7 linked regions of the Homo sapiens genome follow. The protein of the gene in region 1 purifies or fractionates together with the protein of each later gene. This does not show direct contact. Each region holds a gene or a part of one and is shown in the gene's direction. Other genes may lie near its edges.

The links.
Region 2: the proteins of KLF8 (region 1) and PRRC2C purify together in Homo sapiens (affinity purification with mass spectrometry; one large-scale study listed by BioGRID and IntAct). This does not show direct contact.
Region 3: the proteins of KLF8 (region 1) and MAP7D1 purify together in Homo sapiens (affinity purification with mass spectrometry; one large-scale study listed by BioGRID and IntAct). This does not show direct contact.
Region 4: the proteins of KLF8 (region 1) and PRRC2B purify together in Homo sapiens (affinity purification with mass spectrometry; one large-scale study listed by BioGRID and IntAct). This does not show direct contact.
Region 5: the proteins of KLF8 (region 1) and CLPX purify together in Homo sapiens (affinity purification with mass spectrometry; one large-scale study listed by BioGRID and IntAct). This does not show direct contact.
Region 6: the proteins of KLF8 (region 1) and ZNF611 purify together in Homo sapiens (affinity purification with mass spectrometry; one large-scale study listed by BioGRID and IntAct). This does not show direct contact.
Region 7: the proteins of KLF8 (region 1) and SGSM3 purify together in Homo sapiens (affinity purification with mass spectrometry, with the first as the bait; one large-scale study listed by BioGRID). This does not show direct contact.

What each region holds. Positions count from the first base shown.
Region 1 is NC_000023.11:56,252,436-56,256,688, forward strand, and holds part of KLF8 (Krueppel-like factor 8), read left to right. Parts: intron 1-4,253. UniProt on the Homo sapiens protein: Transcriptional repressor and activator. Binds to CACCC-boxes promoter elements. Also binds the GT-box of cyclin D1 promoter and mediates cell cycle progression at G(1) phase as a downstream target of focal adhesion kinase (FAK).
Region 2 is NC_000001.11:171,589,469-171,593,721, forward strand, and holds the end of PRRC2C (protein PRRC2C), read left to right. Parts: coding exon 1-137; intron 138-1,683; coding exon of another isoform or gene 1,684-1,736; intron 1,737-2,118; coding exon 2,119-2,379; 3' UTR 2,380-4,043; downstream 4,044-4,253. UniProt on the Homo sapiens protein: Required for efficient formation of stress granules.
Region 3 is NC_000001.11:36,169,089-36,173,341, forward strand, and holds part of MAP7D1 (MAP7 domain-containing protein 1), read left to right. Parts: intron 1-1,882; coding exon 1,883-2,227; intron 2,228-2,424; coding exon 2,425-2,493; intron 2,494-3,375; coding exon 3,376-3,539; intron 3,540-4,253. UniProt on the Homo sapiens protein: Microtubule-stabilizing protein involved in the control of cell motility and neurite outgrowth. Facilitate microtubule stabilization through the maintenance of acetylated stable microtubules.
Region 4 is NC_000009.12:131,484,189-131,488,441, forward strand, and holds part of PRRC2B (protein PRRC2B), read left to right. Parts: intron 1-497; coding exon 498-602; intron 603-759; coding exon 760-952; intron 953-1,476; exon of another isoform or gene 1,477-1,562; intron 1,563-1,896; coding exon 1,897-1,994; intron 1,995-2,978; coding exon 2,979-3,106; intron 3,107-3,667; coding exon 3,668-3,908; intron 3,909-4,253.
Region 5 is NC_000015.10:65,178,681-65,182,933, reverse strand, and holds part of CLPX (ATP-dependent clpX-like chaperone, mitochondrial precursor), read left to right. Parts: intron 1-2,729; coding exon 2,730-2,890; intron 2,891-3,882; coding exon 3,883-4,000; intron 4,001-4,253. UniProt on the Homo sapiens protein: ATP-dependent chaperone that functions as an unfoldase.
Region 6 is NC_000019.10:52,731,728-52,736,639, reverse strand, and holds the start of ZNF611 (zinc finger protein 611), read left to right. Parts: upstream 1-1,595; 5' UTR 1,596-1,639; exon of another isoform or gene 1,640-1,846; intron 1,847-2,179; exon of another isoform or gene 2,180-2,609; intron 2,610-4,912. UniProt on the Homo sapiens protein: May be involved in transcriptional regulation.
Region 7 is NC_000022.11:40,405,054-40,409,306, forward strand, and holds part of SGSM3 (small G protein signaling modulator 3), read left to right. Parts: intron 1-40; exon of another isoform or gene 41-87; coding exon 88-231; intron 232-595; coding exon 596-791; intron 792-1,024; coding exon 1,025-1,170; intron 1,171-1,384; coding exon 1,385-1,609; intron 1,610-1,963; coding exon 1,964-2,018; intron 2,019-2,147; coding exon 2,148-2,275; intron 2,276-2,359; coding exon 2,360-2,515; intron 2,516-2,735; coding exon 2,736-2,790; intron 2,791-3,017; coding exon 3,018-3,067; intron 3,068-3,223; coding exon 3,224-3,376; intron 3,377-3,573; coding exon 3,574-3,644; intron 3,645-3,720; exon of another isoform or gene 3,721-3,740; coding exon 3,741-3,789; intron 3,790-3,879; coding exon 3,880-3,965; intron 3,966-4,145; coding exon of another isoform or gene 4,146-4,196; coding exon 4,197-4,253. UniProt on the Homo sapiens protein: May play a cooperative role in NF2-mediated growth suppression of cells.

The sequences.
Region 1 (4,253 bases):
GATTTTTAGATCCCACAAATAAATAAGAACATGTGATATTTGTCTTTCTATACCTGACTTATTTCACTGAACATAATAATCTCCAGTTCCACCCATGTTATTGCAAATGACAGGATCTCATTCTTTTTATGGCTGAATAGTACTCCATTGTGTATCTGTAACACATTTTCTTTATCCATTCATCTGTTGATGAATACTTAGGTTGCTTCCAAATCTTAGCTATTGTGAATAGTGCTGCAACAAACATGGAAGTGCAGATATCTCTTTGATATACTGATTTCCTTTCTTTTTGGTATATACCCAGCAGTGGGATTGCTGGATCATATAGTAGCTCAATTTTCAATTTTTTTGAGGAACCTCCAAATTGTTCTCCATAGTGGCTGTACTAATTTACATTCCCACCAACAGTGCACAAGTGTTTTCTTTTCTCCACATCCTCACCAGCATTTATTATTGCCTAACTCTTGGATAAAAGCCATTTTAAATATCTCATTGTAGTTTTGATTTACATTTCTCTGATGATCACTGATGTTGAGCACCTTTTCATATACCTGTTTGCCATTTGTATGTCTTCTTCTGAGAAATGTCTATTCAAATGTTTTACCCATTTTTAAATTGAATTATTAGACTTTTTTCTATTGAGTTGTTTGAGCTCATTATATATTCTGGTGATTAATCTGTTGTCAGATGGGTAGTTTACAAATATTTTCTCCCAATCTATGGGTTGTCTCTTCACTTTGTTGATTGAATCCTTTGCTTTGCAGAAGCTTTTTAATTGATGTGATCCCATTTGTTCCTGTTTGCTTTGGTTGCCTGTGTTTGTGGGGTATTGCTCAAGAAATTTTTGCCCAGACCAATGTCCTGGAGATTTTCCCAAATATTTTCTGCAGCAGTTTCATAGTTTGAGGTCTTAGATTTAACTCTTTAATCCATTTTAATTTAATTTTTGTATATGGTTAGAGATAGGGTTCTGGTTTCATTTTTCTGCATATGGATATCCAGGTTTCCCAGCACCATTTATTGAAGAGACCACGCATTCCCCAATGTATGTTCCTGGCACCTTTGTAAAAAATGAATTCTTTGTAGATGTATGGCTTTATTTCTGGGTTCTCTATTTTGTTCCATTGCACTGTATGTTTGTTTTCATGCCAATACAATGCCATTTTGGTTACTATAGCTCTATAGTATAACTTGAAGTCAGGTAATGTGATTCCTTCAGTTTTGTTCTTTTTGCTTAGGATAACAGGCTATTCTCGGTATTTGTGGTTTGATATAAATTTTCGGATTTCGTTTTTCTATTTTTGTACATAATGTCTTTTTTTCTTTTTCTTTTTTTTTTTTTTGAGATGTTGTCTCACTCTGTTGCCCAGGCCGGAGTGCAGTGGCACAATCTTGGCTCATTGCAACCTTCACCTCCTGGCTTCCAGCAATTCTTGTGCCTCAGCCTCCCAAGTAGCAGGGACTATGGGCATGTGCCACCATGCCCAGCTAATTTTTTTTTTTTTTTTTGGCAGAGACGGGGTTTCACCATGTTAACCAGACTGGTCCTGAACTCCTAACCTGAAGTGATCCACCCACCTCTTTGTGTTCCCAAAGTGTGTCAACAGTGAACAATCTGACAAAGCAACACTTTGCTTCCCAAAGTGTTGAGATTACAGACATGAGCCACTGCGCCCAGACAAGAATGTCATTGGTATTTTGATAGGGATTTTATTGAATCTGTATTGTGTTTTAGGTAGCATTGAAGCAGGATATTTCCTTGACCCCTTCGTGGGTGGGAACTGGAGTGCACTGGTGCTGGACCTAGCTGGCGCTTTGGCACTAGCAGGGGCGAATTCCACTCACTTAAACCTGCTGTGTTCTACCCCTTGTGGGAGGGGAATCACAGGTCAGTGGGTGCAGGAGCTGGGGTGAGTGCCTTTGGGCACCGGCAGGAGCAAAACTCTATGCGCACCCCACAGCAGAGTCCGGGGGGCGGGGTGCCTGCGACCCTTGAAGCCCCAGAAGGAGTGTTACAGTACCCTTTTAGCTTTGCTGTTTGCAGATGGCTTAAGCATTAACAGCTCACCAGAGGGTCAGTGTGACAGCCTTCTGCACCCACACTGAAGTTCTTGTCTGGCATCCAGGAGGAATGAGGTTACACAATGAATCAAAGGTGGTTAATGTGGGAGATTTTATTGCTGATCAAAGTGGCTATCAGTGGGAGGGGGAGCTGAAAAGGGGATGGAGTGGGAAGGTAATCTTCCCCTGGATTCCAGCTGTCCCCATCTGGACTCCTCTCCAAAGCTATGCCATCAAGCTGTCCCTCTGAAGTCAAGCCACTTCTCTCCAACATCCAACTATAATCTCCAACGTTTAGCTGCTTCTCCTCTTTCTGCCAGCTGAGCCTGGGTTTTTATGGGCACAGGATAGGGGGCAGGGTCAACCATGGGTGGTTTTGGAAAAGGCAACATTCAAGCAGGAAAACGGAAATATAAGTTCTCACTTTGGACTGTGGTTCCAGGCTTCAGGGTGGGGCCCTCACCAGGGACCTGCCCACTTCTGCCTAGAATTTCCCTGCCTCCTGTCCCTGTCAGTATGGACATTTCAACAATATTGATTCTTCCAATCCATGAACATAGAATATTTTTCCATTTTTTGATGTCCTCTTCAATTTCTTTCTTCAGTGTTTTATAGTTTTCATTGTAGACATCTCCCACTTCTTTGGTTAATTTGTAGGTATTTAATTTTATGTGTGGCTATTGTAAACAGGTTTACTTTTTTATTTCTTTTTCAGATTGTTCACTGTTGACATAAAGATGCTACTGATTTGATTAGTTTGATTTTCTATACTGCAGCTTTACTGAATTTGTTTATGGGTTCTAATAGTTTTTTGTGGAGTTTTTAGGTTTTTCCAAATATAGGATCATATCATCTGCAAACAAAAATAATTTGACTTCTTTTTTTCCAATTTGAATGCCCTTTATATCTTTCTCTTTTCTGATGGCTCTAGCCAGGACTTCCAATACTATGTGGAATAACAGTGTTGACAATGGGCATCCTTGACATGTGCCAGGTCTTAGAGGAAAGGCTTTCAGTTTTTCCCCATTCGATATGATACTAGCTGTGGGTCTGTTTTATATGGCTTTTATTATGCTGAGGTGTTACTTGTATCCCCAGTTTTTTGAAGGGATGTTGAATTTTATCAAATGCTTTTTCAGCATCAATTGAAATAATCATGGTCTTTAATCCTTCATTCTGTTGATATTATGTATCACATTGATTGATTTGTGTGTTGAACTGTCTTTGCACCCAGGGATCCCACTTGGTCAGGATGAAGGATCTTTCTAATATATTGTTGAATTTGGTTTGCCAGTAGCTTGTTGAGGATTTTTGCATCAGTATTCATCAGAGATATTGGCCTGTAATTTTCTTTTTTTGAAGTGTCTTTGTCTGGTTTTGGTATCAGGGTAATACTGGCCTTGTAGAATGAGTTTGGAAATAGTTCCTCCTCTATTTTTCAGAATAGTTTCAGTAGAATTGGTATGAGCTCTTCTTTAAATGTTTGGTAGAATTCAGCTGTGAAGCCATCAGGTCCTGGGCTTTTCTTTACTAGGAGACTTTTTATTATGGCTTCAATCTCATTACTTGTTATTGGTCTGTTCATGTTTTGGATTTCATGGTTCAATCTTGGTAGGTTATATGTGTCTAGGAATTTGTCCATTTTTTTCTAGATTTTTCAATTCATTGACATGTAATTGCTCATAGTGGCTACTAATGATCCTTTGAATTTCTGCAATATCAGTTGTAATGTCTCCTTTTTCATTTCTGATATTATTTATTTGGATCTTCTCTCTTTTTTTCTCATTAGCCTGGCTAAAGGTATGTCAATTTTGTTTAACTTTTCAAAAAACAACTTTTTGTTTCACTGATCTTTTGTATTTTATTTCAAATTCTTTTAATTCTCCTCTCATCTTTGTTATTTCTTCTACTAATTTTGGGGTTGGTTTGCTCTTGTTTTTCTATTTTTTTTTCCAAAAGAATATGCAGGTATCATTGCTTTTCTAGGTCTTTAAGATGAATTATTAGATTGTCTGTTTGAAGTTTTTTCTGTCTTCTGATGTAGGCACTTACAGCTATAAAACTTCCCTCTTATGACTGTTTTTGCTATATTCCATAGGTTTTGATATGTTGTTTTCCATTATCACTTGTTTCAAGAAATTTTTCAATTTTCTTCTTAATTTCTTCATTGACTCACTGGTCATTCAGGAGCA
Region 2 (4,253 bases), on another chromosome or scaffold:
AGATGCCTCCTCCGCTGACCACAGGCCTCATGAGCCATGCTCGTTTGCCACATGTAGCCAGGGGTCCTTGTGGATCACTATCTGGAGTCAGAGGTAATCAGGCCCAGGCTGCGTTGAAGGCTGAACAAGACATGAAGGTTAGTACAGTGTTAACAGCCAACAGATCAAGAATCTGTCTCTGAACCATGTCTTAAAATGCCTCTGGACCCATAACTGTATATCCAGGCATTCATTGTCTTAGCAGACTTAACCAAGCTAACTACTTTTATTCATTCCCCCTTTTTTTTCTTTTTTTTCCCCCATTCCCATTCCTTTCATCTTTTTTTTCTTTTTGTTTCTTTTTCTTTTTCTTTTTTTTTGCAACTGTAGTCAGGAAATGAATTAATGTCTTAAACTGTGGCCAAATGAATTGTTATCAAATAAATATTTGAGGGAGATCTGAGTTTAGATGCACACTTTTTTTTGGAATAGCAAAGAAGTAATATCAATTATTATAGACTTCCCCATTTTCTTTCTTTTTTTTTTTTTTTTTAATATATATTTTCTTCCCCCCTTTCCCCTGACTCTCCTCCTCCCAGCAGCTTAAAATGTAAATCATGGTTATATGAAAACTCTGGAATGGGTAAGATGTGTTACTATCTTAGTACTTTTTTCCATTATGAGTCATCAAAGTACAGTTTTCTTCTCAAACTGTTTTCATACCCTTATTGGCCTACCACATGAGGTGGTTGTATTCCACAGTGGATTGTGCAGTTATAGATGAAGAACTCAGAAAAGCACTTTGGGATCCTTCATGATGAAAGGCACTGATAAACATGAGGTTTGCTAATGCAGAAAGAGTGCCTTTAGGAGTCTGTGTGGGGACAGTTTTGTAGCATAAACCTTACATGTCTGCCAGTACAGCCAGTTGAATCCGTTTATTTCTATATTTACTTTAGGCTTGACTTTCAGGGATCTTAGTAATTTTTGCCTGTTTTGTCACTACATATGTCATCAGATCAGACTAGAACAAAGAAAAGCTTACTGCTTTCAAACAGGGAAATGTGCATAGTAATGCTTTACTCTGAATTAGAAACATGTTTATGATAATCCTATTAGAAAATTTGATTGATTGATTAAAGTGTCTTTTTGGGTCGACATCCCTAGTGTTTCTGATCCTGAGTAATCAAATTTAAAGACTACCCAGCAGCAAAACTTTTATTAAATAATTATCTACTTTTATTAAGGCTGTATGCCTAGGATTTCCATCTGTTTGTTATAATTAGAAATACCAGTGTGAGTAAAAATCTTAGGAAGTTATTTGGCCTTGGATTCCAGTTCTACTCCTGGCTCCTTGGCTCTTGATTTTCGCATATTCCCATGTTGGAAATAACATTAGAGCTTAATAGTAGTAATGGGGTGGGAGAGGGTACAAACTTCTTGAAAATTGCTTCAGATCTTTGGATAGTACAGGTTACCTATAGAACATAAAGCATTTTTTTAATATGCAAGAAGGATGGAAACTTAAGTTTTAATTGTGAATGTTACAGTGGTAAAATTTACAGATTTGACGTAAGTATATTTTTGGGGGCACATAGTCAAAACTAAGAAATTATTTACCAGCTCAGAATGTGGTAGGAGCTATCAGAACTTAGTGATCAAGTGAAGTCGTAGTTACTAATTTCTGATGCTCTTCCCCTGCAGAAGAGAGCTGTGGGAAGAGGACTCAGCCACAAGACATTTGGTCCTAGGTGTTGGTAATGCCACAATATAAGTGCTTCCTTTTCATTTTATTGTAGACCACATATTGATAACTAGAAGTTTTAAGTGTTACATGTATGTTTTTAGATTTGCAAGCAGGTTCCCTAAATAAAATTTAATATGAGAGGGCAGACCTTGAAAAGGTGGTGGGAGGTGGTCCTGTGGTTTTTTTTTTTTTTTTAAATCACATGAAATATTTCAAAAATAGGAAGAAATCTATTCATTAAAAGCTCAAAGATCAATGAGGTACTTTTGGCTTTGGCCAAACCAGTGTGGGGAAAACTGATTTGTGATTGGTAAAAGAATTTGAACCAAGATTGATTTGACAGGCTTTGGTAATGCTGCAGTATTTTCAGTTGTTCTTTCTCATTTTTTAAGGCAAAGCAGAGAGCAGAGGTTCTTCAGTCCACGCAACGGTTCTTCTCTGAACAGCAACAGAGCAAACAGATAGGAGGAGGCAAAGCCCAGAAAGTGGACAGTGATTCAAGTAAACCTCCTGAAACACTGACCGACCCTCCTGGGGTCTGTCAGGAAAAAGTAGAAGAAAAGCCACCCCCTGCACCCTCCATAGCCACCAAACCTGTTAGAACTGGACCAATCAAACCTCAGGCGATCAAAACCGAAGAAACAAAATCTTAAAGGCTATGGTTTATTGCAGGGGATTGGGAGGGGGGCGGGAAAACATGGAGAATTAAGTCAGATAATGCTGGCAGCCAAAGGGGCAAAATGGCCTGTGACATTATCCTGTTCAGAGCTTGGAGATGTACAAGGGACATAGGAGCAATTTACACTGACACACAGCTGCTGTACCAGTGAAAACGAGGCTTTGCAAGCTTGTACCTACTATATAACATGTGCTTGGTTGATGGCCATGCATCTTCAGTCAGAATTTATATATAAATGTATGCACCCATTTTTTTGAGTGCATATAATTTAGACCTAAAAATCCTTATGATTAGATGAAACACCAAAAATATAAGGAAAATAACACAGCAGAGGAATAGCTCAGCCTGAACAGTGTGATGGTCCCAGCTACTACATCAGATGCGGTTTTTTTGCTCCCTTATGTTCTTCGGATATGGTTATGGCATTTGTAGGCTTGGAGGTAAAGAACTGAAGATAACTGGTGCTGGATAGAGGAGCCTTATTTTTTATTATGGCAGCTTGCTATTTTTATAACATGGTGATTGAGTTGAACACAATCAAAGTACAGTAGTAACTGATGTCCCCTTCTTCCTGGATGAATGAGCAGATAAATATTGATGTCAGCATCCTTGAACCATATCAAAGTGAGCAGTGTTTGGCTACTGCTTCTATTTGAAATGGTGCTGTGTTTTGGTTGTGGTCTGAAGCTTTGAAGCGCTACTTAGCATCTCCTTTCTTCCATGGAGCTCTCACGATTCAAACATGACAGATTTGGTAAAATGCTGGTTAGGTTGAGTCTTCCTTGCCCCCACTCAGTCATCTTTGTATGAATCCCATGATTTGGGGGTTTTTTTCTTTTTTTTTTTATACCAGTTTTTAGCTGGTGTTTATGAAGAACAGTGAGTACCTAGAACTGTGCCACTAATTAAAGGAAATCCTAAGAAGGTGCATTTCTTTACAGAGCTGTGTCATGCCATCCTTTGGGCCCTCTGCTGGAAAAGTAGAATCAAGTCTCAAATAATGCCTTTTTAATTGTATCCTCTAGTATTATAGATATAGGACAGTACTGTATCATACCTCTGTGAATGTAAAATATCTTGTACCTGCTTTATGATACGTAGTAGTGACCGTGCTTTATCAGAGCTGTTTTTAATGATGTTATTCTAGAATGTTTTCTTTCCAGATGATGATTCAGAAGCTAATTTTAAAAAACGGTGCCAGGTACCACAACAGTAACAGAACTTTGCAATTTTCTGGGGTTTTGTTTTTTACCTTTTTCCCCCCTTTTTTTTAAATGGAGTGTGCTGGATGTCTCTATAATTTTATTCAGATGACTGCAGAACCTGGAAAAGCTGTTGCTGCTATTGATGCATAACATACTGCTATTGGTCTTTTTATATAAATATATATATATATATACATATATATATATAATTTGAATTTTTGGAAACTTTAGCTGTGCTGTCAACTTTGGAAAAAGTATCCCGGTTTACTGTGTTGAGTTGGCATTGTACAGAAATTAACAGCCATATTGGTCTAGAAACGTTAAACTTAATTTTTTTCCATTTGTACAGGGGTAACGCACTGTATTAAATATGTAAGGTCTTATCTACATGGGTTTGATTACAGAAACTAATAAAGTATTCTCTAAATAATGATTCTTGGAGCTTATAATCATTTCCTAAAATCTGAAGCAAGAGGGTTTGTCATGTATTAAAAATAGTGGTCAAGAGTACTGGCCAGTCGCAGTGGCTCATGCCTGTAATCCTAGCACTTTGGGAGGCCGAGGCGGGTGAATTGCCTGAGCTCAGGAGTACGAGACCAGCCTGGGCAACATGGTGAAACCCCATCTCTACTAAAAATACAAA
Region 3 (4,253 bases), on another chromosome or scaffold:
TAAAAATACAAAAATTAGCTGGGCGTGGTGGCAGGTGCCTGTAATCCCAGCTACTTGGGAGGCTGAGGCAGGATAATCACTTGAACTTGGAAGGCAGAGGTTGCAGTGAGCCGAGATCGTGCCAATGCACTCCAGCCTGGGCAACAGAGCAAGGCTCTGTCTTGAAAAAAAAAAAAAAAGGCCGGGCGCGGTGGGCAGTGGCTCACGCCTGTAATCCCAGCACTTCGGGAGGCTGAGGCGGGCGGATCATGAGGTCAGGAAATTGAGACCATCCTGGCTAACACCGTGAAACCCCGTCTCTACTAAAAATACAAAAAATTAGCCAGGCGTGGTGGCGGGCGCCTGTAGTCCCAGTTACTCGGGAAGCTGAGGCAGGAGAATGGGGTGAACCCAGGAGGCGGAGCTTGCGGTGAGCCCAGATTGCGCCACTGCACTCCAGCCGGGGTGACAGAGCGAGACTCCGTCTCAAAAAAAAAAAAAAAGAAAAATGTTTCCTTAGATGAAGCTTCCCACAGATGCCGGCCCTGCTCCCTAAGCAAGTTGGTAGCTGTGTTCCCATTGATCTCCTCAGTGCCTGGATGGTAGCAGCAGATGGCACCAGGGCTCAACATACAGAAGCTTCTGTTTGGGAGACCAGGAGGCTTCATAAGACCAACAGGGAGTGCTGTTTGCTGGCTGGCATGTGGATAGTGCCAGGCACCTTGCTGACATTCCCTACTAGCTTGGGCTTGTTATCCCCATTTTACAGGTATCAAAACTGAGGCTGAGCCAGGCATGGGCCTGTAATCCCAGCTACTTGGGAGACTGAGGCAGAAGGATCTCTTGAACTCAGGAGTTTGAATCCAGCCTGGGCCACATAGCAAGACCCTATCTCTTAAAAAATAAAAATTTAAAAAAAGAGACTTAAAGGAACTAACTAGACCCTTGAAAAATTCACTAGCAGCAAGTAGACTTGGGGGGAAACAAAACAAAACAAAACAAAAAAACCTGAGGCTGAGAGAGGTTGACTGGCTTGTCCATGGTTGTCTGCTGGGGAAACAAGCCCTCTCTTCCCATCTTCCTCATCTGACTGACTCTGAAGCCTGTCTCTCAATTGCCCCACATGTGTATATGTCAAATCGTGTGGCTCCCTTACTTCACTTCGATGTCTTTTACAGGATTCCTACAATAGTCATGTCTTAAAAGCAGAAATTTCGGTGTGGCTTGGGGAAAAAAGATTATAAAGTGGACGTAGCTTGTTGCCAATGGAATCTTCACAGCAAAGCATTCCACTAGAGCCCATACTTACGTCCTTCCTCTTGGTCAGTCCCATGTGCCCAGCACTGGCACCCTCTGTGAACAGACCTTGGGTTGGGCACAGTCACCCAGAAGTAAAGCAGAAAGGAGAGGGAGGCAGACATGGAAACAATCAGTGCATTTGGTGCACGAATAAGTGCTACAAGCTTGTTCTCAGCTTTTCCAACACACCCTGCTCCATTCTGCCCCTTCGCATATACTCTTCTCTGCCAACACCTCTCCTCCTTGCTTTGCTGACTCCAGCTTATCCTTCGGATCTCAGCTTGGTTGTTACTTCTTCAGCAAGCCCTCCCCATATAGGTTAACTATCTCTGCTTTGCTGCCCCAGACATAGTATTTATTCTCTACTGTAGTTGCCTAGCTATTTGTCTGTCTGCCCTGCTAGAGGGTAAGCGCCACAGAGGCAGGGATCATGGCTATTTTCTCACCATTATATCATGAGTATCTGGAACAGGGCCCGGCACATAGAAATAACTCAAACATAAGTGAATGAAGAAGTCGGTTGAACAAGGGAGAGGGCCACATATGGGGCTGATGGCACAGATGAGCAATCTGACCTCTCTCCTCTCTTGTGTTGGTCTTTCAGCTGTGGTCGCCAGGACCCCCCCAGAGCCAAGACCTTCTCCAGAAGGTGACCCTTCCCCCCCACCACCACCAATGTCAGCCCTGGTCCCCGACACTCCCCCGGACACCCCTCCTGCCATGAAGAATGCCACTAGCTCTAAGCAGCTCCCACTGGAACCAGAGAGCCCCTCAGGGCAGGTCGGGCCTAGGCCAGCCCCCCCGCAGGAAGAGTCCCCTTCCTCTGAAGCAAAGAGCAGAGGACCCACCCCACCAGCCATGGGCCCACGGGATGCCAGACCTCCTCGAAGGAGCAGCCAGCCATCTCCAACAGCAGTGCCAGCCTCCGACAGCCCTCCCACCAAGCAAGGTGTGTGTAATGACCCCGGCCTGGGCCTAAACCTCTTGGCTCAGGGTCCTGGCCCTGGATCATGCCAACTGAAAGAGTCCTGTTTGCCCTAGAGGAGATAAAGAAAGGATGGGGTGAGGCCCGGAGGGAGGGATCTGAGGCTGACTCCTCTTTGGGGACAGCCTTTTGACCTGTCTGTTCTTGTTCCCTCTGCTCAGAGGTGAAGAAGGCAGGAGAGAGACACAAGCTGGCAAAGGAGCGGCGAGAAGAGCGGGCCAAGTACCTGGGTGAGTGAGCAGGAAGCCTCATCATCTTCTTCATCGTCATCATCAGCATCCTATTAATAACACCAACAGGCTGGGGCGCAGTGGCTCACGCCTGTAATCCCAGCACTTTGGGAGGCCGAGGCGGGCGAATCACCTGAGGTCAGGAGTTTGAGACTAGCCTGACCAATGTGGAGAAACCCTGTCTCTACTAAAAATACAAAAAATTAGCCAGGCATGGTGGCACATCCCTGTAATCCCAGCTACTCGGGAGACTGAGATAGGAGAACTGCTTGAACCTGGGAGGCGGAGGTTGTGGTGAGCCGAGATTGTGCCATTGCACTCCAGTCTGGGCAACAAGAGCAAAACTCCGTCTCAAAAAAAAAAAAAAAAAAAAAAAACCAACACTTCTGCAACACTTAATTATGTGCACTGTGCTAAGAGCAGGACACACATCTAATTTAATCCTCAACCCATTTTGAGGAGGAAACAGAGGCTCAGAGAGATGAAATCATTTGCTTAAGCCACACAGCTAGTAGAGTAGCTGACATTCAGACCCAGAAGCCTCCTGCCACCCCAAATCCCATGCTCTTAATCACAGTATGTGGACATCTGTCTGGTAGGCCCCCCAGGTCAGATGGGGATCTTGCACTCAAGCATTCATTTCTCCTTCAGCCCTGAGAGCCCATAAGGCCAATGGAGGAGAAATAGGCCTCTCCTGAGTCCTGTCTTCAGTAAGCCTCTCAATTTGAGGGGGTTGTCTCAGACTGAAAGCTCCACCTAAGCAGGCGGGAGAAAGACCCACCCAGGGCATGGGTAGCAGGGCTGGCCACTTGGAGGAAATGTCCTTGGCCCAGGCCTTCTGCAGAACCCTTCACACACGCCACTGGGCTCCTTTGTCCACAGCGGCCAAGAAGGCAGTGTGGCTGGAGAAGGAGGAGAAGGCCAAGGCGCTGCGGGAGAAGCAGCTCCAGGAGCGCCGGCGCCGGCTGGAGGAGCAACGTCTTAAAGCCGAGCAACGCCGTGCAGCCCTGGAGGAACGGCAGCGGCAGAAGCTCGAGAAAAACAAGGTGCGGGATGGGTCTCCGTGAATCCATGTACACGTGTGCTCACCGTCTGCATACTGGTGCAGTGTGTACACACATCCATGTTCACGGCTCTGCCTTATCTGTGTCTATGTGGTCCTATTTGTGTTCACATCTACAGTTGTGTCCCTGTGTTAGAATATCTGGGCACCTGTACAACTGCAGGCACATTTGCTTCTGAATGTGCCACTGTAGGCCCCTGTAACTGTTTACTGTCAGTACCTGTGTTCGTACATGTACCCCATGTGTCTGTATGTATGCAGGTATGCATCTGTGTGAGCGTGCCTAGCTCTGTGACATGGGTAAAGCCCTAGCTTGAGTGCTGGTGAGGAAATGAAGGAAATGGCCACCTGGCCCTACCTGGGAGGGCCTCAGGCTAGAGGGAACACATAGCCCCAAGGTCAGGACCCTCAGTGCCTGAGATGTGGCCTTGCCTGGGAGCCCCAGGTAGGGGGAGTCCACCCAATCCTCAGAGAATCAACTCATGCACTCAGGAAATGACTCAGGAACAGTGAAAAGCTCCCCAAGAACAAGTTGAAAGGGATCTTGGTCCTTAATCATAGCAAGGATTTGGTAACCTTGGTTACCTGCAATGAGTCAGGAAAAGACTCCAAGGGAAGGGAGTGGGGGAGGCATTGTCACAGGAGGAAGAAGGGCCTCTATCCCAAATTCGATGAATGTTCTGAGTCCACATCTCTC
Region 4 (4,253 bases), on another chromosome or scaffold:
TTACCAGAGCCCTCTTTTTCAGTTTGCTGAGGGGCACAGCCTTCCCTGTCTGGCCCAGGGCATCTCCAGGCCAGGTGGCAGGTGCCTTCTGAACCAGATGTTTGTGTGCGGGCTGCCAGTCCATATTTATACTGCCGGGACATGGCTCTCCCTGTCTGGAGGGCACTATGGAGTGTGGATATGGGGGTGGCTCTCTGCAGACTTGTGTGGAGGAAACTGATGGAGGCAGCCATCTCCAGGAGATCAGTCATGGTCCTGGCTGCCATCAGTTTCATCTGGGTGGTCTTGGGTACATGTGGCCAATACTGAAGATGCATTTGGACAATTCATAGACACGGAGCTGTAGGTGCTTTTGGGAAAAGCCATGGATGGGTTTGGGCAAGTCATAGATACATTTGGACGAGCCTTGAGTGTGTTCAGGAGAGCCATGGATGGGTTTGGGCAAAGCCATCTCTGCACCTGTTTGTGTTCCATGGTTTCCTTTTCCTCCTCTCCAGGCAGGGTTAACACAGAGTATCCCCATCCTGCGGCGGGACCATCACATCCAGAGGGCCATCGGTCTCTCCCCAATGTCCTTCCCCACCGCCGACCTTACTCTGAAGGTAACACCAGCCCTGAGCTGGGTGAGGGCCCACCCAGTACCTTAGCTTACAAAGAGGCAGAAGGGAGGAGTCCCCGAACCCCTAAAGCTTAGATTGGCTCTGTCCACTGCCAGCGTGATAGTAATTTTCATCCCTCCCCCTCCCCTTGCTTCTGAAGATGGAGTCTGCGCGCAAGGCTTGGGAAAACTCCCCCAGTTTGCCGGAGCAGAGCTCTCCAGGCGGCGCTGGCTCAGGCATCCAGCCTCCATCCTCTGTGGGTGCCTCCAGCGGGGTCAACTACAGCTCCTTCGGTGGAGTGTCCATGCCACCCATGCCTGTGGCCTCTGTAGCACCTTCTGCTTCTATGCCAGGTATCTCATCCCCTGAGCAAGGCCTTGGGGTCCTTCTCCATTTATTATCAAGAAAAACGGATTAACAGCCCCGAATGTCACCTCCTGGCCTTGTCTTAAGTAGCATGTAGAAGTAGCAACTTGTTTTTAGGCCCAGTGGTCGTAGCTCCCATGTGCTGCAGGTAATGTGCACGTCCTGCTTCCCCACGCTGGGAAACAGAACTGGGGGATAACAGCGAGGCACTCCTGCCTACTGGTGACAGGAGCGAGCAAAGGCTTGACTTTGAGTCAGACCTGGGTCATGTGCTGGAGCCGTGTCGCCTCGGCTGGTGAGCAGCTCTTGCCGAGCCACAGTGTCCTCTCCTCTCTTACATGAAACTCCGTGGGGTGGCCACACCCGTGAGGCCAGGTCTTACCTGGAAAGGGCTTTGTATCAACAGAGCCCTCAGTCACTGGCAGCTACTTTTGTCCTGATTGCTGCCATCCTTATCGTGTGCCAGTGTCCCCAAGGGGAAGCGTGGGGGTTTTGAGGGCCCAGCTGCCAGTCTCAGTGATGTAATTCCAATAGATCCTTCTGACCCTCCACTGTGGACTCAATAGCAGGGAGATGAAGAGGACAGTGACTGAGAGACCAAGGCAGCCCTGGTTAAAGTAGAATGCCCCTTCGAGTGTCTGGGGTAGTTGGTGAGTGGGAGGTGGGAAGGGTAGGCCAGAGCCCACCTGCCTCCTCCCTCCTCCTAGGTCTGACGCTGCACCCTCCCTACGTTCCCTGAGGTGCGTGCCAGGCGTGTTGTGAGCAGGCGTGTGCTTCCGGCACACAGGGAACCTAGCAGCCTCTGTACACACGCCCTCGTCCCCACTGAGTCCCCTGGGTAGAGCAGACCTGTAGACTGTTTCCCTCAGGGACATTGAGAAGTAGTGAGGCTTGATCCTCTTCTACGTCCCTTTTGCCGCTCTGTTTCCAGGCAGCCACCTCCCGCCCCTGTACCTGGATGGCCATGTGTTTGCAAGTCAGCCCCGGCTGGTTCCTCAAACGATACCTCAGCAGCAGAGTTACCAACAGGTGACAGCAGCTAGCCAGGTGGCCTGGCTGGGGGTGGTGGGGAGGAGCCAGTGCAGGGCGGAATTGGCTTGCTCATCTATTTCTCATTGTCTGTCTGGTTTTCCATCCCCCTCACATGTGGTGACCAGCACCTGGCCCGCCACGGCAGCCAGGAGGCATTTGTTAAGCGAATAATCGAGACAGGGAAGAGGAGTGGAGTTGGCTGCTCCAGACTCTGCTTAGTTTTCCTTTCTCAAAGTTCTCCCTCCTGTGTCCTAGCCGGGGAATTAGCTAAAATGGAATTTTCTTTGGTGATCAGGTATCCTTCTGATGAAGAGAAGAAAGGCCTAAACTCCCAGGCATGGATGCATTAGAAAGAGGTAGTCTTAGAAATGAGCAGGCGTTGGTTATTTATGCAGGACTGGCATACTTTCTGTGCTGCCAAGGGGTGATTTTTGGAAGTCTCCCCTCTAATGCTGGTGCTGGGCCTTTGGGATGGTCTAGCCGCCCCTCAGACCCATGTGCCTCCACAGCCACGACAGTGGACTTCCAGGCAGAATCTGCTCCAAGTGCAGGCTTGCTGATGGAGGATGTGGCCTCTGCTGACCTCTTTTTAAAAACATGTTCTTAACTGCTGTATTGTTTGGTTACCAAGATTTTGGTTCTTGCATAACTGGGTCAGACTGCATGTATCTTTCTTTTTGTGCATTGTTAAATTCAGCGTTATGTTTTTGGAACTCACCTCTGTTGACGTATGTGCTAGGATCCATTTTTGTTGCTGTGTAGAATTCCAGGGTAGGGATATGCTGTGGTTTGGGGTTGCTACCAGTTTTTCATTATAGGCTTTATCCCAATAGCAAGGGAAGCCCAGGAATGACATGCTGGCATTTGAATTTTGGGCAGTGTTCCAGCAGCCATGTGGAGAGGGGCAGGGGAGGTGGGAGGGGAAGAACCACCTGGATGGGCCTTGCGGTTACCTCCCCGACCCCGTTTTCCCGTTCACAGGCCGCCGCTGCCCAGCAGATCCCGATCTCCCTTCACACATCTCTGCAGGCACAAGCTCAGCTTGGACTGAGGGGTGGGCTTCCTGTGTCCCAGTCCCAGGAGATCTTCAGCTCCTTGCAGCCCTTCAGGTGAGCTCATGTACCAGCTTGCGGAGCTGGCAGCTCACAGCCAGGGCCTTGGCCCTGTGTGCAGCCTTCGTCCTGCAGCTGTTTGGTGCTTGTCTGCTTTGGGGCCAGTGGGGCGGGGAGGGGTGGGAGTTTGCTCTGAATCACTCTTCAGTCCGTTGTTAACTGTGCTCTAGGAGAGGCCTGGGGCGAGCTGATATGTGGTGGGCCGTGTTTTGCTTTTCCATGTCATCTTGCCTCCTTTCCTTGCTCCTTCCTCCTCCTCTCCCCTTGACTCCCTGTCTCCTCCCCACCGCGGGCTTCTCCGTCAGTGTGGCTGCCAGTCATTGTGGCTGATGTCCTGTGCCTCGTACAGCCTGGATGTCTTCACTTGTTTAATCCAGCAGCATCAGCGCCATCTAGGAGCTTGTTCTCAGGCCCCATCCTGGACCCTCTGAGTCGCGCTCTGGGGGTGGGGCCGGGGATCTGTGGTTTAGCAAGCTCTCCGGGGATCTCTGAAGGGTGGGACCAGATCCGCAGCTGGACTCATCCACCTGATCCCGACCATCTGTCTGGCTTTTGCAGATCTCAGGTGTACATGCACCCCAGCCTGTCACCGCCCAGCACCATGATCCTCTCTGGGGGCACAGCCTTGAAGCCTCCATACTCGGCGTTCCCAGGCATGCAGCCCTTGGAGATGGTGAAGCCGCAGTCTGGCTCACCCTACCAGCCCATGAGCGGGAACCAAGCCCTGGTCTACGAGGGCCAGCTCAGCCAGGCTGCTGGCCTGGGTGCCTCCCAGATGTTGGACTCCCAGCTCCCACAGGTCAGGAATTCAGTCACTCTACCCAAAGCCCTAGGCTTCTTTCCTTCACGACCTTGCCTTTTCTTTTCACCCGCCTCTCAGTGTGTGCTGGCCTATCGTGCTGTTGGTTGGTAGCCACCGTGCCCATTCCTCAGCGTGCAGGAAATCAGCCTCTTCTGAGTAGCCCCATCACCTTTTTTTTTTTTTGGACAGAGTCTCGCTCTGTTGCCTAGGCTGGAGTGCAGTGGCATGATCTCGGCTCACTACAACCTCTGTCTCCCACATTCAGGCGATGCTCCTGCCTCAGCCTCCTGAGTAGCTGGGACTACAAGTGTGTGCCACTGTGCCTGGCTAATTTTTGTATTA
Region 5 (4,253 bases), on another chromosome or scaffold:
GCCTTGGCCTCCCAAAGTGCTAGGATTACAGGCTTGAGCCACCGCACCCGGACTAGTATTTCTTTTTAAAAACAGTTGTTCTGAAATTTAGAAAGCTTTGTCTGTATGATAAAGTTCTGTAAATAGTGAAACTTAAATTGTCTTTTCTGGTTGCTGCCAGGTAATCTGGTGAAATATACTTTACAGAAACACTTCTCTTTTTTGGCTTTCAGAGCTTCACCTGGGGTTTACAGGCCTCCAAAGGGTCCTTGAATAGAATTCAGAGATTCTGTGAACTTTATTTTCACTAAGCTCTAACTGAAACACAACGTTTCCTTGGCCTATGAATGTGGGCAACACATCCACAGTAGTCTTAGAAGTGTCTGTGGATTTGTCATCAATCAAAATCAGAAATATTTTCATATCACATTATAGTTGCTGATATTTCAGAATATTGTCCATACTTTTTGCTACTTTGAAATCATAGTAATTATTTAAAAAGCTGTTAGATCTTATTTAATTTTGCTTGTTAATAAAGAGGCATATTTTAAAAATTTTTTGATAACTACTTCATTATAATTTGTTTCCTTTGTTATGTATTTTATTTTATACATTTAAAAATATTATTCTGAGAAGATCTATTCAGAGGCTTCACCAGACTGCTTAAGGGGTTCATGGCACAAAAAGTGTTAGAAATCCCAATTACTTTGCTACAGAGCTTTATCATTTTTATGAGGATTTTATGATTGGTGAATGGTCATTTTGATTGATTGCATCTGTCACTCTCCCTCAATTACTTTTTCTTTTTCTTTCTTTCTTTCTTTTTTTTTTTTTTTGAGACGGAGACTCTGTTGCTTAAGCTGGAGTGCAGTGGTGCCATCTCGGTTCACTGCAACCTCTGCTTCCTGGGTTCAAGCGATTCTTCTGCCTCAGCATCCCGGGTAGCTGAGACTACAGGCGCGTGTCACCATGCCCAGCTAATTTTTTGTATTTTTAGTAGAGATGGGGTTGCACCGTATTAGCCAGGATGGTCTCGATCTCCTGACCTTATGATCTGCCCCCCTGGGCCTCCCAAAGTGCTGGGATTACTGGCATGAGTCACTGCACCTGGCCCCCTCAATTACTTTTTCTAAGCCTACTTTTGGGATTGATACTATCTTTATTTATTTATTTATTTATTTATTTATTTATTTATTTATTTATTTTGCGACAGAGCCTCGCTCCGTTGCACAGGCTGGAGTACAGTGGCGCAATCTCGGCTCACTGCAACCTCTGCCTCGTTCAAGTGATTCCCCTGCCTCAGCTTCCCAAGTAGCTGGGATTACAGGCACCTGTCACCACGCCTGGCTACTTTTTGTATCTTTAGTAGAGACAGGGTTTCACCATGTTGGCCAGGCTGGTCTTAAACTCCTAACCTCAAGTGATCCACCCACCTCAACCTCCCAAAGTGCTGGGATTACAGGCGTGAGCCATCACACCTGGCTCCTTCAATTTTTTTATTGTGGTAAGATACATATAAAATTTACAAGACTTAACTATTTTTAGTGTATAGTTCGGTAGTATTAAGTACATTGATACTGTGCAACCATTGCCATCATCTTGTGAAACTGAAGCTCTGTACCCATTACAACAATAACTCTCCATTTTCCCCAACCCCCAGGAACCGCCATTCTACTCACTGACTCTATGATTTTGCCTTCTAAGTACCACGTGTAAGTGGAATAACACAATTTTTTAAAGAACTTTTTTTTTTTTTGAGACAGAGTCTCCCTCTGTTGCCCAGGCTGGAGTGCAGTGGCATGATCTTGGCTCACTGCAACCTCTGCCTCCTGGGTTCAAGCAATTCGCCTGCCTCAGCCTCCTGAGTAGCTGGGATTACAGACGCCTGCTAGCACACCCAGCTAATTTTTGTATTTTTAGTAGAGACAGGGTTTCACCACGTTGGCCAGGCTGGTCTCGAACCCTGGGATTACAGGCATGAGCCACCGCGCCTGACCTTAAAGAACATTTGAAGTTTGTTTCCATTGTTACAGATTTTTTTTTTTTTTTTTGAGATGGAGTCTCGCTATGTCACCCAGGCTGGAGTGCGGTGGCACGACTTCAGTTCGCTGCAAACTTCGCCTCCCGGGTTCAAGCGATTTTCCTGCCTCAGCCTCCCGAGTAGCTGGGATTAAAGGCGCCCACCACCATGCGTGGCCAATTTTTTTTTATTTTTAGTAGAGACGGGGTTTCACCATGTTGGCCAGGCTGGTTTTGAACTCCTGACCTCTAGTGATCCACCCGCCTAGGCCTCCCAAAATGCTAGGATTACAGGGGTGAGCCACCACACCCGGCCCAGATAGTATTCTTATATAATAACAGATGAGTTGCTGTCAGATGTTTATTCTCATTGGTAGAAATAATAAGAATATAGGGCATAAATGGCCTTTTTCAAAATCTTACAGGTGAGGCAGATGTTGAAGTCCATTCAAACTTTGAAAAAGTTATGACGTGGGTGATCTTGCCTTATTTCCAAAGGACACATACAGAAAGAAACACCTTTATTTATTTAGAATCTTTCAGAGGCCCAGACCTGCTGGCCTGTTTTTGAAAGGACTTTGCCTCCGTTGGTGTCATTTTTTTTCTCTCAGTTTATACTACTGTGAAAATGATAGCTTTTTTTCAACCTCCTTTATGCTCAAGGAATTTTTGTTTCCAGGGGATTTATTGAGGCATGTCTATATTTGATGTAGATTTCCTTTTATTTTCAGGTATTTCTGGTGGTCGCATTCATATGTCAGTTTTAGGAAGGCTTGGGACATTTGAAACTCAGATTCTGCAAAGAGCTCCTCTTAGATCCTTTACAGAAACACCAGCATACTTTGCCTCAAAAGATGGGATAAGTAAAGATGGTTCTGGAGATGGAAATAAGGTAATTATTTTATCTTATTGGCATCTGTACACATTGTGAGTTCCCTCCTTTAAAAAAATATAACAGTACTGTCTCTTACTGGCTTATATGTTTTCTGTAGGAAATATGAGATAGCTAAAATGATCTGAATAATTTTATGTAATTAGATGTTTCATTTTGAACCTTAAAATACTTTTATAAGCATTGCACATAGTAAGCAGTAATTAAAATTTCTTACACCCCAAAGTAGTAAAGAAGTGTCATTAAATGACAGTCAGTAGGATTGAATTAGGAATAGCCATCATTTCCTGCTTTCATATAACTCTTATAACCCATGGCAGTATAAACCTCACTTTATCCTCTACCTAAAAATTTCAGATTTGTGGTATAACTTAATGTTGGGCTACTCTGGTAGCCTAAAAATTTCATATTTCTGGTATAACTTTATGTTGTAGCTAGTATAACTTATGTTGGTAGTTGTATTGAGTCAGTGACTTAACAGTTTTTTTCATTACGTGAATTTGACTAACACTTGAGTTAATTTTATATGTTAGACAAAATGTGAGACACTTACATATCCATACTTAACAGTGACTCTGATGTGAGTAAAATTATTCCCATTTTAGAGATGAGAAAAGTTAGATCTAAGAATAGTCAGAGTCACTACCTACCATGATAATAACTCCTGATTCAATTTCATTGAAATGTAGTTTTTTACCCTTAGTAAATTTTCTAGTGCCTGAGTCATTGAATGAAAGCTGTTTATTATATATGTTGGCACATGTTATACAAAGGAGGACTGCAGATATATATGTATTTACTAGAACTGATTTGATTTTTGAAGTAAATAGATCTTCTGACACCAGTAATAGAATTATAAAATATACTAATAATTTCATCCTAGAAATATAGAAGATTATAAAATTAATTACAAACAGTATTGTTTACATTTAAGTTGGTTGCCTGAAACTAATAATTGACACTCTTCCTTTTTTCTCCTTCATAAACGTTAGAAATCAGCAAGTGAGGGAAGTAGTAAGAAATCAGGCTCTGGGAATTCTGGGAAAGGTGGAAACCAGCTGCGCTGTCCTAAATGTGGCGACTTGTGCACACATGTAGAGACCTTTGTATGTAAGTATTACATCTTCTACTGTTCTTTTTTCCCTACATTTTCTGTAAATTACTAAGTGTATAAAAATATGTAAATTATGTAAAATGTATAAATATAGGCCAGGTGCAAACGGCTTATGCCTATAATCCTAGCACTTTGGAAGGAGGAGATGGGAGAATCCCTTGAGCCTAGGAGTTCAAGACCTGCCTGGGCAACATGTTGAGACACCTGTCTTTCCAAAAAAAAAAAAAAAGCCAGGTATGGTGGTGCATA
Region 6 (4,912 bases), on another chromosome or scaffold:
CTAACTCGATGAAATCCCATCTCTACTAAAAATACAAAAAATTAGCCAGGCATGTTGGCTCACGCCGTAACCCCAGCACTTTAGGAGGCTGAGGCAGGCAAATAACTTGGAGTGAGGAGTCCGATACCGGCCTGGTCAACATGGTCAACCCCGTCTCTACTAAAAATACAAAAATTAGCCTGGCATGGTGGCGCACGCCTGTAATGCCAGCTGTTCCCAAGGCTGGGGCAGGAGAATCGCTTGAACCCAGGAGGCAGAGGATGCATTTAGTCGAGATCTCGCCACTGCACTCCAGCCTGGGCAACAGAGAAATACTCTGTCTCAAAAATAATAATAATAATAATAATAATAATAATAATAATACAAGAAAGTAATAGATCTCTTCCATAAATGTGCTAGGACAACTATCTGGATATCCACATGGAAAAGAATAATGTTGGATCCCTATGTCACACAATCAAAAATTTTATTTGCGAAAGTTTTTTTTAAAAAAAAAGAGAGAGAGAGAGACAAGAAAGGGAGACCGCGGCAGTGGGCGTTATTTTGTCGCTCAGGCTGGCTTGGAACCCGAGGCTCAGGGATCCTCCCGCCGCTGCTTCCTGAGTAGCTGGGACCTCAGGCTCCCGCCCCCGCGCCTCTGCTGTCTTTAAGCAGCAGGTGGTGACCTCACTCCTTCTCGGCCTGAGCACTCCGTCCGGCATTCCAGGCGGTGGCTTCAGGGAAGTCTCTGAAGCTGAGCACAGGGCGGAGTCTCCTTCCGGAGTGAATGGACAATAGAAAGGGAGAGGATATCTATCTGTTCTGTGGGACCTCAGCATGACATGGTACATACCGCCCAGGCAGGGCTTTGCATTTCACATTCTAGTTTGTATCCCTGTTCCAGACAATTACAGTGTAGCAGGACGAGTCGCAGACAAAACCTCTCAGACACCGAGTTGTAGAAGGAAGGGCTTTATTCAGCTGGGAGCATTGGCAAGCTACTGCCTTAAAATCCAAGCTCCCCGAGTGCACAATTTCTGTCCCTTTTAAGGGCTCACAACACTAAAGATTTCAGATGAAAGGATAGTGACTGATTGAGCAAGCAAGGGATACGTGACAGGGGCTGCATGCACCGGTGATCAGGGAGAGAGAGAACAGGGCAGGAGTTTCACCGTGTTCTTCTATACAATGTCTGGAATCTATGCCTAACATCAGCTTCTAAATCATAAGTTGATTTTTAACTACTGGGTTTAGGCCAGGCGGATCCAGGCCTGGTTTCGGGCCTGGCGCGGGGCTGCCTGTCTTTGGTTTTACTTCCTGTTGTTTTTACTGACTATAAAACAATATAAAACAATGTCAGAGGGTCTCTCTCTTCTCTCAACAGGGCTTTTGTATCATGCCTCAGACTTTCTGGCGCTCTCGCCTCCAAAACCTGAAAACAGAGACGCTGGGAGCGAGGCTGAGAGACGCGCAGATCCCGCCCCGGCCCTGCCCTCTGCCGGTTCTAAAAGGCAAGGTCTCTCCGCCTCGCGCCCCGCCCCTACCTCGCCCAGGCCCCGCCTACCTCCCACTTCCCGCCCAGGCCTGGCTTTTGTCCTGCGCGCGCAGATTAACGCAAACCCGGAAGCGGATCGGGTGGAGTGTAGGTCATATCGCCGCGGTGAGTTTTGCTCTGTGTTGTATTAAGTCTGCGCTAACTAGGTTCCCAGGGCTTCTGTCCCTGGGACGTGGGGTCCCCACAGACCTGGAAATTCTCCGGCGTCTTCCTTTGCCCAGAGCAAATTGAGACATCCCCGTGAGAGCCCGAGGGTCGCTTCCTTTTGGGTTTAAAGTCGTCCTGAGGCTGGTCTCGTCCCCGGTCTTTCTGCTATAGGTCAATGTATACACTTTCTGTTGCGTAGTTTTCCTGCTGAAAACCTTGTTCTGACTCCTCGCGCCCCGCGCTTTTTAAAGTCTTCACCCGCGATGTGGATTCTTGCCCAGGGCGCCTCCCAGCCTCCCCCTCCTCAGCCCCGGGAGCGCCGCGCCGCAGCCCCAGTCCCGGGGAGGCCGAGTCCTCTGCCAGGTCCTGGGATCCTGCAGACCCCATCCTGGTCCTAAGGCGCCGTCGCGCCCCCCCCCCCCGCCCCGCACCTTCCTCCTCATGCCGGGGCCTGCTGCTCCCCAGGTCTCCCCTCCGCAGTCACCGCTTTCATTGAACCTGCACTGGGGAGGTCCCAGGGGCCTGTCCTGCGGCACGGGGTATTCTTGCCTGCGGAGCTCCAGGGCGTGGAAAATGCGCTCCTCCGGGATGCAGGCGTCTTACTCCAAACCGTGTTGCGATTGTGTGGGCCAAAGGAATCAGGAGACAGAGAGCAGTAGAAAACCTGAGGCAGAGAAAAGAAGAATAAGAAAGGCCCATAACAGATGGCAAAATAGAGGATTGGTGAGGGATATGCCAAGAGATGGCAGAAGTGAAAAAAAAAAAAAAAAACCTAAGAAAGCAGGAGGAGAAAAGCAACCGGAGAAATGTAGAGAAAGGCTAGATAGATGTACAGAGAGATGAAGGATCACAAGGTAGGGGGAGTGGCAGCAAAGAGGGAGACTCATCAGAGTGAGGGAGAGAGGGAAGGATTTGGAGCCAGGGCAGACAGAGCAGAGTGGTGCTTGTGTCAAGGAGAACAGAGGGAGAACCACAGCAGAGAGGACAGCTGGGATCTGGGGAGACACAGAGTGGGGACAAGGGAGTATATCGGGGAAGATGGAATTTAACAGGGAGAGCAGAGGAGGCGCAGAGATGGGAGAAGAGGCAGAAATAGATGGAGATTGAGGACGATTGAAAGATTGGGGAGAAGGAGCAATAAGAGGTTAAATAAGTTGTGAGGATGGAGGAGAAGAGGTGGAAGAGAAGGAATAAAGGGAAGAAGGGGATGAATAGCAGGAGAGGAGAGGGGTACAAAATGAAGAGCAGAATCCCAGGGAAAAAGAAAAGAAAACAAGAGCTAGAGAGAGAAGGGGAGAATGAGAGATATGTACAGAATTAGGGAGGGAAGCACAGTAATGAAGAAAGAGGGTCTGGACACAGTGGCTCACGCCTGTAGTCTGTAGTCTCCACACTTTAGGAGACTGAGGCAAGGGGATTGCTTGAGTCCAGGAGTTCGAGACCAGCTTGGGCAACATAGTGAGACCTCCCCCCCGCCAAAAAAGTAAGTAAATAACCGGGCATAATGGTGTGCACCTGTACTCCCAGCTGCTCTGGTGGCCAAGCTGGGAGGATGACTTGAGCCCAGGAGGTCCAGGCTGCAGTGAGCTGAGATCATGTGACTACACTGCAGCCTGGTCGTCAGAGCGAGACCTTGTCTCCAAACAAAAAAAAAGGGGCGAGAGACTGGGTTCAGATGAGTGGGTGAGTTCATTGGATATGATTGGTTGTGACATGTTGAGTTCTGTATATATAATCTAATAACTAAAAACTTGTTTAAATTACACAGATGAGATTGAGAATTTTAAAATTCGTATCTATAAGACATGTACATTCTATAAATCTTGGCATCAGAGGTTATGTTCCACTTGGAATCCCTATTTGCCAGAGGGCAGTCACTTATTCAGTTGTGAATCACTGTCTCCCCTTTTCCTAGGATGGGGTAGGACGTGGGTCAGTGAAGTGGGAAAATAGTCACTGTCTGTTGTTACAAAATACATTTAATTAATTAATTAATTAATATTTTGAGACAGGGTCTGACTCTATCACCCAGGCTGGTGTGCAGTGGCGTGATCTCCTCTAACTGCAGCCTCGACCTCTTAAGTTCAAGCCATCCTCCTTCCTCAGCCTTCTGAGTAGCTGAGACCAGAGGCATGAGCCACCAAGCCCGGCTAGTTTTTGTATTTTTTTTTTTTTTTGTAGAAACGGAGTTTCACTATGTTTCCTAGGCTGGTCTCAAAATCCTGGGCTCAAAGGATCCTCCTGCCTTGGCCTCCCAAATTACTGGGATTACGGGTGGGATTACAGGGAGGAGCCACCGTGTCTGGCCTACTTAGCCCTCAATACATTGAGTTATTCTGAATAACTCAATAACTCAATACTGTGAGTTATTCAGAATAACTCAATACTGTGAGTTATTCTGAATAACTCAATACTGTGAGTTATTCTGAATAACTCAATACTGTGAGTTATTCTGAATAACTCAATACTGTGAGTTATTCTGAATAACTCAATACTGTGAGTTATTCTGAATAACTCAATACTGTGAGTTATTCAGAATAACTCAATACTGTGAGTTATTCAGAATAACTCAATACTGTGAGTTATTCAGAATAACTCAATACTGTGAGTTATTCAGAATAACTCAATACTGTGAGTTATTCAGAATAACTCAATACTGTGAGTTATTCTGTTTTCTTTTTTCTTTTTTGAGATGGAGTTTTGCTCTGTCACCCAGGCTGGAGTGCAGTGGCACGATCTCAGCTCACTGCAAGCTCCGCCTCCCGGGTTCACGCCATTCTCCTGCCTCAGCCTCCGGAGTAGCTGGGAGTACAGGCTCCTGTCACCACTACCAGCTAATTTTTTGTATTATTAGTAGAGACAGGATTTCACCGTGTTAGCCAGGATGGTCTCAATCTCCTGACCTCGTGATCCGCCCGCCTCAGCCTCCCAAAGTGCTGGGATTACAGGCGTGAGCCACCCGCCCGGCCATTTTTTTTTCTTTTTTTGAGAGGGAATTTTGCTCTTGTTGCCAAGGCTGGAGTGCGATGGCATGATCTCAGCTCACCACAACCTTGGCTTCCTAGCATCAAGCGATTCTACTGCCTCAGCCTCCTGAATAGCTGGGATTACAGGCATGCACCACCACGCTCGGCTAATTTTGTGTTTTTAGTAGAGACAGGGTTTCTTCATGTTGATCCAGGCTGGTCTCTAACTCCCGACCTGAGGTGATCCACCTGCCTCGGCCTCCCA
Region 7 (4,253 bases), on another chromosome or scaffold:
TCTGGGGGAGAAGCCCGCCTGGGGTCTGCCTCCCTCCCAGGGTGTCACAAGGTCTTGTTATTGTGGGTGCCGATGGCTGCCTGACAGATCGAGAAGGACCTGCTCCGCACCATGCCCAGCAACGCCTGCTTCGCCAGCATGGGTAGCATCGGGGTGCCCCGCCTGCGCAGGGTGCTCCGGGCCCTGGCCTGGCTCTACCCAGAGATCGGCTACTGCCAGGGCACCGGCATGGTGAGCACAGCCCCAGAAAGGGCAGTGGCAGCCCCAGGACCCCCTCCAGGACCCTAACAAGGAGTGGCCTCCCGCTACGGGGCAGTAGCCCCAGGGCCTCCTCCAGGACCCCTAACAAGGAGTGGCCTCCCACTCCGGGGCGTCCCCAAGGAGATCGGGGCAGCTGCACGTTATGCAAGCAGAGGCGCTCCCCAAGGGATGTGAAAGTGAGGCAGGCCAAGGAAAGCAGCCCAGGGAAGGCCTGGGTTCCAGCATGCGTGCCCCCCAAGAGGCTTTTGCTAATTGGTCTCCCTAGGGTAGGGGCACCTTTTCTAATCTGCACAAAGACCTGGGTAGAAGGCCCTTGTCCCTGTGCCCTGGCCAGGTGGCCGCCTGCCTCCTGCTGTTCCTGGAGGAGGAGGACGCCTTCTGGATGATGTCTGCCATCATCGAGGACCTGCTCCCCGCCTCCTACTTCAGCACCACCCTGCTGGGTGTCCAGACTGACCAGCGGGTCCTGCGCCACCTCATTGTCCAGTACCTGCCTCGCCTGGACAAGCTGCTCCAGGAGCATGACATTGGTAAGGCGCCCCTGAGCCACTGGCTCCCATTCTGCAGCTTGGAGGACTCAGGCGGGTGGCCGAGTGGGGATAGGGCACAGCCCCCCAACCATGGTCTTTGTCGCTCTTTTGTTCTCTGGTGTTCCCTGCCCCCTCCCCTCCTTTGCTCTTAAGCAGGGAGGACCTTGCTGCAGTTCCGGGGAGGGAGGTTTCCACCACCTCCTCCCCAGCGGCTTTGGCTCCTGTGTTTACAGAGCTGTCCCTGATCACACTGCACTGGTTCCTCACGGCCTTCGCCAGCGTGGTGGACATCAAGCTGCTCCTGCGCATCTGGGACCTGTTTTTCTACGAGGGCTCCCGGGTGCTGTTCCAGCTCACGCTGGGCATGCTGCACCTCAAGGTGCTCCACGGCCCCACTTCAGGCTGAGGAGTAGGCACCCGAGATGGGGGGCAGGGGAGCAAGAGACCTCCCTGGGCCAGGCAAGACCAGCCCCCTGGCCCCTGACAACTGTGCCAAGGCAAACGGGTCCCTGAGGATGGGGGTTGGGGTCAGCTCAGTGCCACGTCCCTGCAATGACAACCTTCTTCCCCCATCCTGCCCTGGCATGGCCCAGGAGGAAGAGCTGATCCAGTCAGAGAACTCGGCCTCCATCTTCAACACGCTATCGGATATCCCGTCGCAGATGGAGGACGCGGAGCTGCTTCTGGGGGTGGCCATGCGGCTGGCCGGCTCCCTCACCGATGTGGCCGTGGAGACTCAGCGCCGCAAGCACCTGGCCTATCTCATTGCAGACCAGGGCCAGCTCCTGGGGGCCGGCACCCTCACCAACCTCTCTCAGGTGGCCCAGGATGGGGGGCCGCACCTTGACCCACAGCACACGGGGAGGAGGGGTCACCTTGAAGTTCAGAGCGCGGGGGCTGCGGAAAACAAACCAGCCCTTCCTGCTCTGCCCCCCAGCCTGGCCCAGTCAGACCACAGCTGTGGGGTGATCCAGGCCTCCTCAGGCTTTGTGCACCTCAGGTTCTGATCCTGGCACGGTTTGGGAGGAAGGCAGACCCAGCTCTGATTATCTGTTTTCAATTCTTGGAGCCAGCGTCAGAGGCTATTTCAGATGAGACAGTATAAGCCAAGGGCTGGTGGGTTCTCTTCCTCCCGGGGCCAGGACCACCCTGACCCACTCCTCTTGGTGCAGGTTGTTCGCCGCAGGACCCAGCGGAGGAAGTCCACCATCACTGCTCTGCTCTTCGGTGAGAGCTCTGCGAGTGCCAGGCAGTGTGGGCATGCGGGAGTCTGTCCTCACGCTCATGTGGACGTGGAGCTTCCTCCTCGGGGGCCTGGAGTGGGCTGTGGTCACCATGGTTCTCTGGGCCTCCTAGGGGAGGATGACCTGGAGGCACTCAAGGCCAAGAACATCAAGCAGACGGAACTGGTGGCTGACCTCCGGGAAGCCATCCTGCGCGTGGCACGCCACTTCCAGTGCACAGACCCCAAAAACTGCAGCGTGGTGAGTCGCCAGCTCCCTGGGCTGCTACCAAACACGGCCCTAACTCCTCCAACCCCCTTGGTGGGCCTGTGTTCACTGTGGCAGGAGCTGACTCCAGACTATAGCATGGAGAGCCACCAGCGGGACCACGAGAACTACGTGGCGTGCTCACGCAGCCACCGGCGCCGAGCCAAGGCCCTGCTGGACTTTGAGCGGCACGACGACGACGAGCTGGGCTTCCGCAAGAACGACATCATCACAGTGCGTGGGGGCGCTGGACTACCAGGTCCTCAGGCTGTGGCGGGTTCCCCAGACTCCCTCCACCAAGCCCCACCCCAACCCCTTTCCCTGCCAAGAGCTTCTCTTGTGAAGATGTAGGGGTCTTGGCCTGGCCTAGTTGCTGAGGAGTCATATCGGGGGTGCAGGAGGCGCTGGCCCAGGGCACCCAGCTTTGGTTCCTGCTGTTTTTCCTCCTGTGCAGATCGTGTCTCAGAAGGACGAGCACTGCTGGGTGGGGGAGCTCAACGGCCTGCGAGGTGGGGTCCTTGGTCTGCTCTTGAGCTGGGAGAGGGAGGAGGGGGTGGGCACAGAAGACTTGGGTGACCCTGGCCGCCACCAAGCTGTTCTCCTCTATACACCTGCCTGGCTTGAGGTCCCTGAAGCAGCTGAGCCGGCTTCCCACTGCCTCAGCCTGCCTGCAGGCTGTGTCTGCTCTGTCCTCGGCCCTCGTGGTTGCTCCTTACAGGGCCTGTTTTTCCCACAGGCTGGTTTCCAGCCAAGTTCGTGGAAGTCCTGGATGAGCGCAGCAAAGAGGTGAGGGGGGTGGGCGGGCTAGGCACGGCTGGCACCCTTCTAGCCAGGGCCTGCGTGCCTAGCGAGTCCTGGCCTGTAGCATGGCAGAGAGGACAGAGGAGGGTGACTGGCTGCAGGCGTCAGGCAGGGCTTTCTCAGACCCATCCCTCCCATCAGTACTCCATCGCGGGGGATGACTCGGTGACGGAGGGGGTCACAGACCTCGTGCGAGGGACCCTCTGCCCGGCCCTTAAGGCCCTGTTCGAACATGGACTGAAGAAGCCATCCCTGCTTGGGGGCGCCTGCCACCCCTGGCTGTTTATCGAGGAGGTAAGTCAGTGGCTGGGCCCATGACCCCCACCCTGCACCAGCCCTGCTGTGCCCCCTAGTACCCATCTTAGGTCCTTCCTGCCCCACAGAGAGGATGGGAAGAGCTGGCAGCGTGGTGACAGGTGCCCAGTCGGCCCCAAGGGCTTTGAACCAGCATCTTCCTGTCCCTGCACTCACACCGTGTGCTGTCCCCACAGGCTGCAGGCCGGGAGGTCGAGAGAGACTTTGCCTCCGTGTATTCCCGTCTGGTGCTCTGTAAGACCTTCAGGTAACTCGGCCCGGGTTCTTCTGGTGGGGTCACCAGCAGTGGGAGGGCGGGGCCTGACCCAGCCCCGGCACCCCAGGAGCTTTGGTGTCCCCTCAGGTTGGATGAAGATGGCAAAGTCCTGACCCCGGAGGAGCTGCTCTACCGGGTAAGGGGGCCTCCTCTGCCAGACCCTAGAGACCTCTCTGGGGTTAGCCTGTGGGGGAGCCTGAGTGACAGCTGACGGTGCCGTTCCCAGGCTGTGCAGTCTGTGAACGTGACCCACGATGCAGTGCATGCACAAATGGATGTGAAGCTCCGCTCACTGATCTGCGTGGGGCTCAAGTGAGTGTGGAAAAGGGGTTGGAGGAGAGCCCTGGAGTGGGGGGACCCAGCCCAGCATCAGGGGGGGTCCTTACAGGGAACCCTAAAGGACAAAGAACCTCAGGGGCTCAGGTCCTTCCCCAAAGAGGGTGGTCTGGGAGCTGCTGAGAGACAGGTCAGAGGCTTCCACCGTGGCTGCAGCCAGAAGGGCCTGGAGCTGCCCCTGCTCCCCACTCCTGGCCATGTCCCCAGTGAGCAGGTGCTGCACCTGTGGCTGGAGGTGCTCTGCTCCAGCCTGCCCACCGTGGA